Linked DNA regions of Homo sapiens: region 1 is linked to region 2. The links come from fine-mapping of genetic effects on gene expression. A gene starts in region 2. The other region holds a variant in brackets. All regions are shown on one strand. Distances are between the middles of the regions.

Region 1 (2,913 bases), 330 kb before region 2:
CAAATATATACAGATAAAGTTCAACACTAAGCACCACCAGCATACATACTGGAGACCAGAAGAGAACTATGATTTAGGAGCTGCAACTAGGATCTGAGCATCTTAAGAATGAAGAAGGGCAAGAGGGCCGGGCACAGTGGCTCCATGCCTGTAATCCCAGCACTTTGGGAGGCCAAGGCAGGCAGATCACAAGGTCAGGAGTTCAAGACCAGACTGGCCAGCATGGTGAAACCCCATCTCTACTAAAAATACAAAAAATTAGCAGGGCATGGTGGTGCACACCTGTAATCCTAGCTACTCGGGAGGCTGAAGCAGGAGAATTGCTTGAACCTGGCAGGTGGAGGTTGCAGTGAGCCATTGCACCACCGCACTCCAGCCTGGGTGACAGAGCAAGACTCTGTCTCCAAAAAAAAAAAAGAAAGAAAGAAAGAAAGAAGGAATTCCTTTTACTTTAAAAAAAAAAAAAGCTATCTTTCAAATATTTGCTTCTCACAACTCTGACATTTAAACATGGTGATAAAGATATTGAACTAATTTAAGTTCACAAAATAAACTGTATTTATTTATAGATATTTCTAGGCTTCAAAATATACAAGAAATTGAATGTATCCTAAGATAATTTACTAAAATGATATTGGTATCTGAATCTTCCCAACACACTCTCACAAACAAGGTTTTGGCCAAGTCTCCAAGTTCTCTCTTCACTTCCCTCAGCCTCAGGGGCTAGATACAGAACCATAGAATAAGGCAAATACTGGCTTTAGCAATACAGTCAGTAACATAAAGAGCTACCAGTATTTTTACTCAATGTTGTTGTGCTATAAGTGTTGGGTTCCCAGAATGAATGCTGAAATGGTCTTATTCTTATCTATTCTATTGGTATTAGGCCACTCTAGTGACTACTTTTATACATACATATATACATATATATGTATATACATATGTGTGTGTATTTGTGTGTATAGCTCATATTCTTTCCTTAAAGTGAAGAAGTACTCTAAATCCAACACTTCTCCAGAAGTTATTCTACTTCTTGGTTCCAAAAGAAGCATCAGATCATCACAAACTTGTGAGCTTGAAGCACCAAAGATTCTCCAAATCTCTCAGCCCACGCATAGGTTGACAAAGAAAACAAGGTGAAATGTGAAGGGTTAAAAAAATATTTTCAATGTGTCACATTGGGAAGTACAGATAAGAAGAATGCTGTGAACATTAATAAATCCCTCACTTTAGATAAAGTGAATTCAAAGTACTTCTTGAACTGTATTAGTCTAGGAATACAATATTTGTAACTTGCTTGAAACAGGAATACTCCCTATAACAGAAGAGTCTGTTAAAGTATGAGGTCTTCTGTTTTCCTTTGTTTTATTCACATATTCTGCCACTTTTTCTTGTACAAGCACACACAGTCTAACACATTCAAAAACTTCCGAATGCCACATTTATACCCATTAACCAATGATTACCCTAAAGTGCCTTCTCAATGCCAAATTAACAGTTTTAACTTTTAACAACTATACAGAAATCCTACCTGCCAGTCTAAAGTTCAACTTCTGCAGTAGCACCATATTTATATCATAATGTTCCCAAAATTTCTTCATTATTTTACCATGCTATCCCCATTTTAATCTTATATGAGTAAAAATT[A/T]AAAAAGCAGCAAAAGATTGATGCTAATAAGAACTGTAGGCCTCAAAACTTATATAATTAAGACAATAAACTCATTCATTCAACAAATATTATTTGAGCACCTTCTGCATACCAAGTATTAGTCTAGGTGCCAGAAATACAAGAGAGAACATACAGCCTGTACTCCAGCAAATATTAAGTTGAATGTGCTTGGGGATGGATGAGAGGGAATCATTAGATAAGCTAAAAACAGAAAGGTTCAGCCTCAGCTGGATAGTTACTGGATTTAGCCCAATAATTCAAGTGTTTATAGAGGAAAACAGAACCAAAGAATATGCTAGAAATATGTCATTGAAGACTATGCCTACAAGGTCAAGTGTAAATAGAGACTTTAAACTACTTTTAGTTCTCTGGGTATTCTCCACTTCCTACTCCTAAATGAAATATAAAGTCTACTGTCTGATTTTTATACATTTAACTTCAGTGTATATTTAGTTTTGTTTTAAGGAGCAGGGAGTTTAATAGGCAAGAAACAAGGGCAAAAAAAAAGCGGCTCCCCATACAGAGACAGAGGGAGAGGGGCTCCAAAGCCAAGAGACAGAACACCACCTGCCATGCATACTAACCAGGTATATATGCAGAGGCTGGAGGACGTGATGTCTGATTTGCATAGGGCTCATGGGATGGGTTTGACTAGGCATGCAATTCACGTAGCAGGTGGAAAAAGCTGGCCCTCCCACCCTAGCTTTTCATATGCAAATGCAGGGCACCATGATGCTCTCCACACGCAAGGATATGTGTGGGCAGCCATGTTGCCAGGAACATGTGGGGCAAGGGCAAGAAGGCCCTGGGAATTGCCATGTTGGGTGGACCCGGTTTCTAATGGCTACCATTTGTATATTATAGGTTGCTGGCCTGGCTCTAAGAGCTGGGGCTTTACAAGAAACTTTTCCAGAGATGCTTTAAAAAATGAAAATTTCCCAAGGATCCCTTTTCATCTCTATATGCCTAAAATAATTTCTTAATAACTCCTACAACATTCCCCACTGTGGAGATGCCACACTAACTGCTGTTAGGGGGTTTTGGGCCATGACTCTTTCTGGCTACTCCCGGACTTAAGCGTATTTTTAAGAAAGCACTGTATGTGAAAACAGGAGAACACCTGTATGTAATTTTGCATACATTGGTAGTTAAACCCCAGCCATATTTATTCTTTTTTCCCCTTTCTCATCTCTTCTTTTTCACATTCTTTATGTCAGATCAGCCAGCTTGTCACATCAGAAGGCC
Region 2 (2,913 bases):
TGGACAGCTCTTCCTAAAGATATTCATATGGCCCCCTCCATCATTTCATTCTGGTTTCCTAACAATGATTCCTAAGGGAGGCCTTTCCTACCAAGTGTTCTCAGATGGTGCCCTCCCCACTTCCTCCCACTGCTTCCTATATCCTTGCCCTGCTATAGTTTTCTCTATGGACCTTATTAACATCTGACTGGCACGTTACATATTTATTTTTTAAATACTGATTTTTTTTTTTTGAGATGGAGTCTTGCTCTGTCACCCAGGCTGGAGTGCAATAGCACGATCTCGGCTCACTGCAACCTCTGCCTCCTGGGGTCAAGTGATTCTCCTGCCTCAGCCTCCTGAGTAGCTGGAATTACAGGTGCCCACCACCATGCCCAGCTATTTTTTGTATTTTTAGTAGAGATGGGGTTTCACCAGGTTGGCTAGGCCGGTCTCGAACTCCTGACCTCAGGTGATCCACCTGCCTCAGCCTACCAAAGTGCTGGGATTACAGGTGTGAGCCACCACGCTTGGCCTAAAATACTGATTCTTTATGTGATTGCTGTATGTCTCCCCCGAATGGAATCCCAGCCCCAAGAACAGTGTCTGCTGGCACAAGCAGCACTCGTGTATTTGTTGAACTCAAGTGGTTGAACAGGAGACTTTTCAATAGTCTTTAATCTAGGGTGACAGATGAGCCTCTGGGCATTCTGGGGCCCTTTGGGACAGTTCTCGGCTACTGTTCACACTGCACATGGAGGGCTTCAAAGGATCCAGGGTCTGAATCAGCCAAGAACTTAGACACAGCTTCAGTTCAGGAGAGATGTCCTCTCTCATGAACGAAGAGCTCTCGAAAATGCCTATGACTGCAACAACAACTACAAGGAGTCCTTGATCACACAGCAGGAGGCACATGCGCCCTGTGAACTTGGTGGCTGCAGTCCTTGTGATGGTGCTTTTGGCTATTTCAGAAGAGGGAAATGTAAACAAACCTGCCCTTTATCTCCACTAGTTTGAATTTACCCAATCTCCCCAATAACTAATAAAAATAACGATACACATAAATATAATTTAGTTTGTTTTTATTTCAGCAGTTGTACGTGGGTTTTTCACCTGCCCCGCATTCTGTCTCCTGATCCCCCAGTAGAGTTTTGCTAAGTATTTCCCAGCTGCTCACACCCCTTAGAAACGCGCTTGGCATGCACCCCGAGGCCCTGCTCTTCTCTCCCTGTCCCACCACTTCAGGGCTGCTGGGGAATGGGTCTCTCTGTGGGCCACAGGTGTAACCATTGTGTTTTCCTTGTCTGTGCCAGGGACACCTTGGCACTCAGATGCCTGAAGGTAGCAGCTTGTCCCTCTTTGCCTTCTCTAATTAGATATTTCTCTCTCTCTCTCCCTCTCTCCATAAAGAAAACTATGAGAGAGGGTGGGTATGAACCAAGTTTGTTTCCTTGGTTAGTTTCCTAACCAAGTTTGAGGGTATGAACATACTCTCCTTTTCCTTTTCTATAAAGCTGAGGAGAAGAGTGAGGGAGTGTGGGCAAGAGAGGTGGCTCAGGCTTTCCCTGGGCCTGATTGAACTTTAAAACTTCTCTACTAATTAAACAACACTGGGCTCTACACTTTGCTTAACCCTGGGAACTGGTCATCAGCCTTTGACCTCAGTTCCCCCTCCTGACCAGCTCTCTGCCCCACCCTGTCCTCTGGAACCTCTGCGAGATTTAGAGGAAAGAACCAGTTTTCAGGCGGATTGCCTCAGATCACACTATCTCCACTTGCCCAGCCCTGTGGAAGATTAGCGGCCATGTATTCCAATGTGATAGGAACTGTAACCTCTGGAAAAAGGTAAGAGGGGTGAGCTTTCCCCTTGCCTGCCCCTACTGGGTTTTGTGACCTCCAAAGGACTCACAGGAATGACCTCCAACACCTTTGAGAAGACCAGGCCCTCTCCCTGGTAGTTACAGTCAAAGACCTGTTTGGAAGACGTCATTTCAAGTGCTCTCCCTCCCACCCCACCTCTTGGGGTAAGGCCTTTCCTAAGCTACCCCTTGGGTCCCTAGCCTAAGAAACAAGGGGGATGTCATCCCTGGTGTAAAGATGCTGTGCAGGAAGTCAGCACTCACGGGATCCAGGGGACGCTCCAAGGGGAATCCCCAGGGCCTGCCATCCATCCGGGAAGAGAGCAAATGCTACCCATGAGGACCTCCTCACTCCCTTTTTGCTCTTTCTTCCACTCAGATCCACCCCACTCCACCCCCACCCAAATCCCAGTGACCTTTGACTAAAGGGCCAAAACTGCTTCCTTTTCTCACAATGAGAGTTGTCCCTCCCTCAATGCCACACACACTCCCTTCTTCATCTGAGTTGTCACAGGAGGCTAGAAACGGGGTGGTGGCACAACTGTCTTGGTTTTAATTTGTGCTTCATAGCCCTCCCAGGGTCCTCTCAGCCTCAAATTGCATTTCCAAATGTAGTTGAAGGACAGAGTGGGCAACCGAAGGCAGTGGAGATGGGAAGATGAATGGCAGGGTCCTCTCCTCTCTCTCTCTGCTTCTTCAGCCTGCCTTCCACATCTCCCTTGGTGCCGCTGCTTCTCTCCGGCTTTGCACCTCTGTTCTTGAAAGGGCTGCAGAACTGGACTCAGACCACGCAAGAAGGCAAGTCCCCCTCAGCTGCCCCAGCTTCCAGCCAGCCCCAGGCTTGCCCAACGGACCACGTCCGTGAATCTGCACTGGGTGCCTGTCTTTCTCTCCCAGGAGAAGATGGGAAGATCCAGTACCCACACACAGACCCCCTTGTGTACACGCAGGAACCATAAACCAGCTGGAGGCAGCCCCTGCCCCACCCTGTCTTATCTACAAAAAATATTACAAGAGACTTTATCTCTTGATTTGCTTCATCGAGTGTCCCAACTACCTCATTTTTTTAAAATGT

Direction of the effects. Positions count from the first base shown, and alleles are read on the strand shown. Sizes are in standard deviations (SD) of each study's normalised expression.
For the expression in esophagus mucosa of the gene that starts at base 1,716 in region 2, A is the low allele of the variant in region 1 and T is the other (moderate effect, 0.70 SD a copy in GTEx).

What was found. PIP is the estimated chance that this variant, and not a neighbour inherited with it, causes the effect. A credible set is the group of variants that fine-mapping cannot tell apart.
Region 1: its variant is the best candidate, but not a certain one, in a credible set for the expression of SERPINC1 in esophagus mucosa (GTEx, PIP 0.88).

What each region holds. Positions count from the first base shown.
Region 1 is chr1:174,247,155-174,250,067 of GRCh38, reverse strand. All of the region lies in intron 5 of RABGAP1L (RAB GTPase activating protein 1 like), which reads right to left. Among named protein-coding and RNA genes, the nearest start is that of RABGAP1L, 89 kb to the right of the region's middle. The variant A/T (reference allele first, on the strand shown) is at 1,648.
Region 2 is chr1:173,916,130-173,919,042 of GRCh38, reverse strand. SERPINC1 (serpin family C member 1) reads left to right here and starts at 1,716. Exons shown (of 7, transcript NM_000488.4): 1 at 1,716-1,824. The coding sequence starts at 1,784. LOC124904457 (a long non-coding RNA gene) reads right to left here and starts at 2,543. Exons shown (of 2, transcript XR_007066739.1): 1 at 2,103-2,543.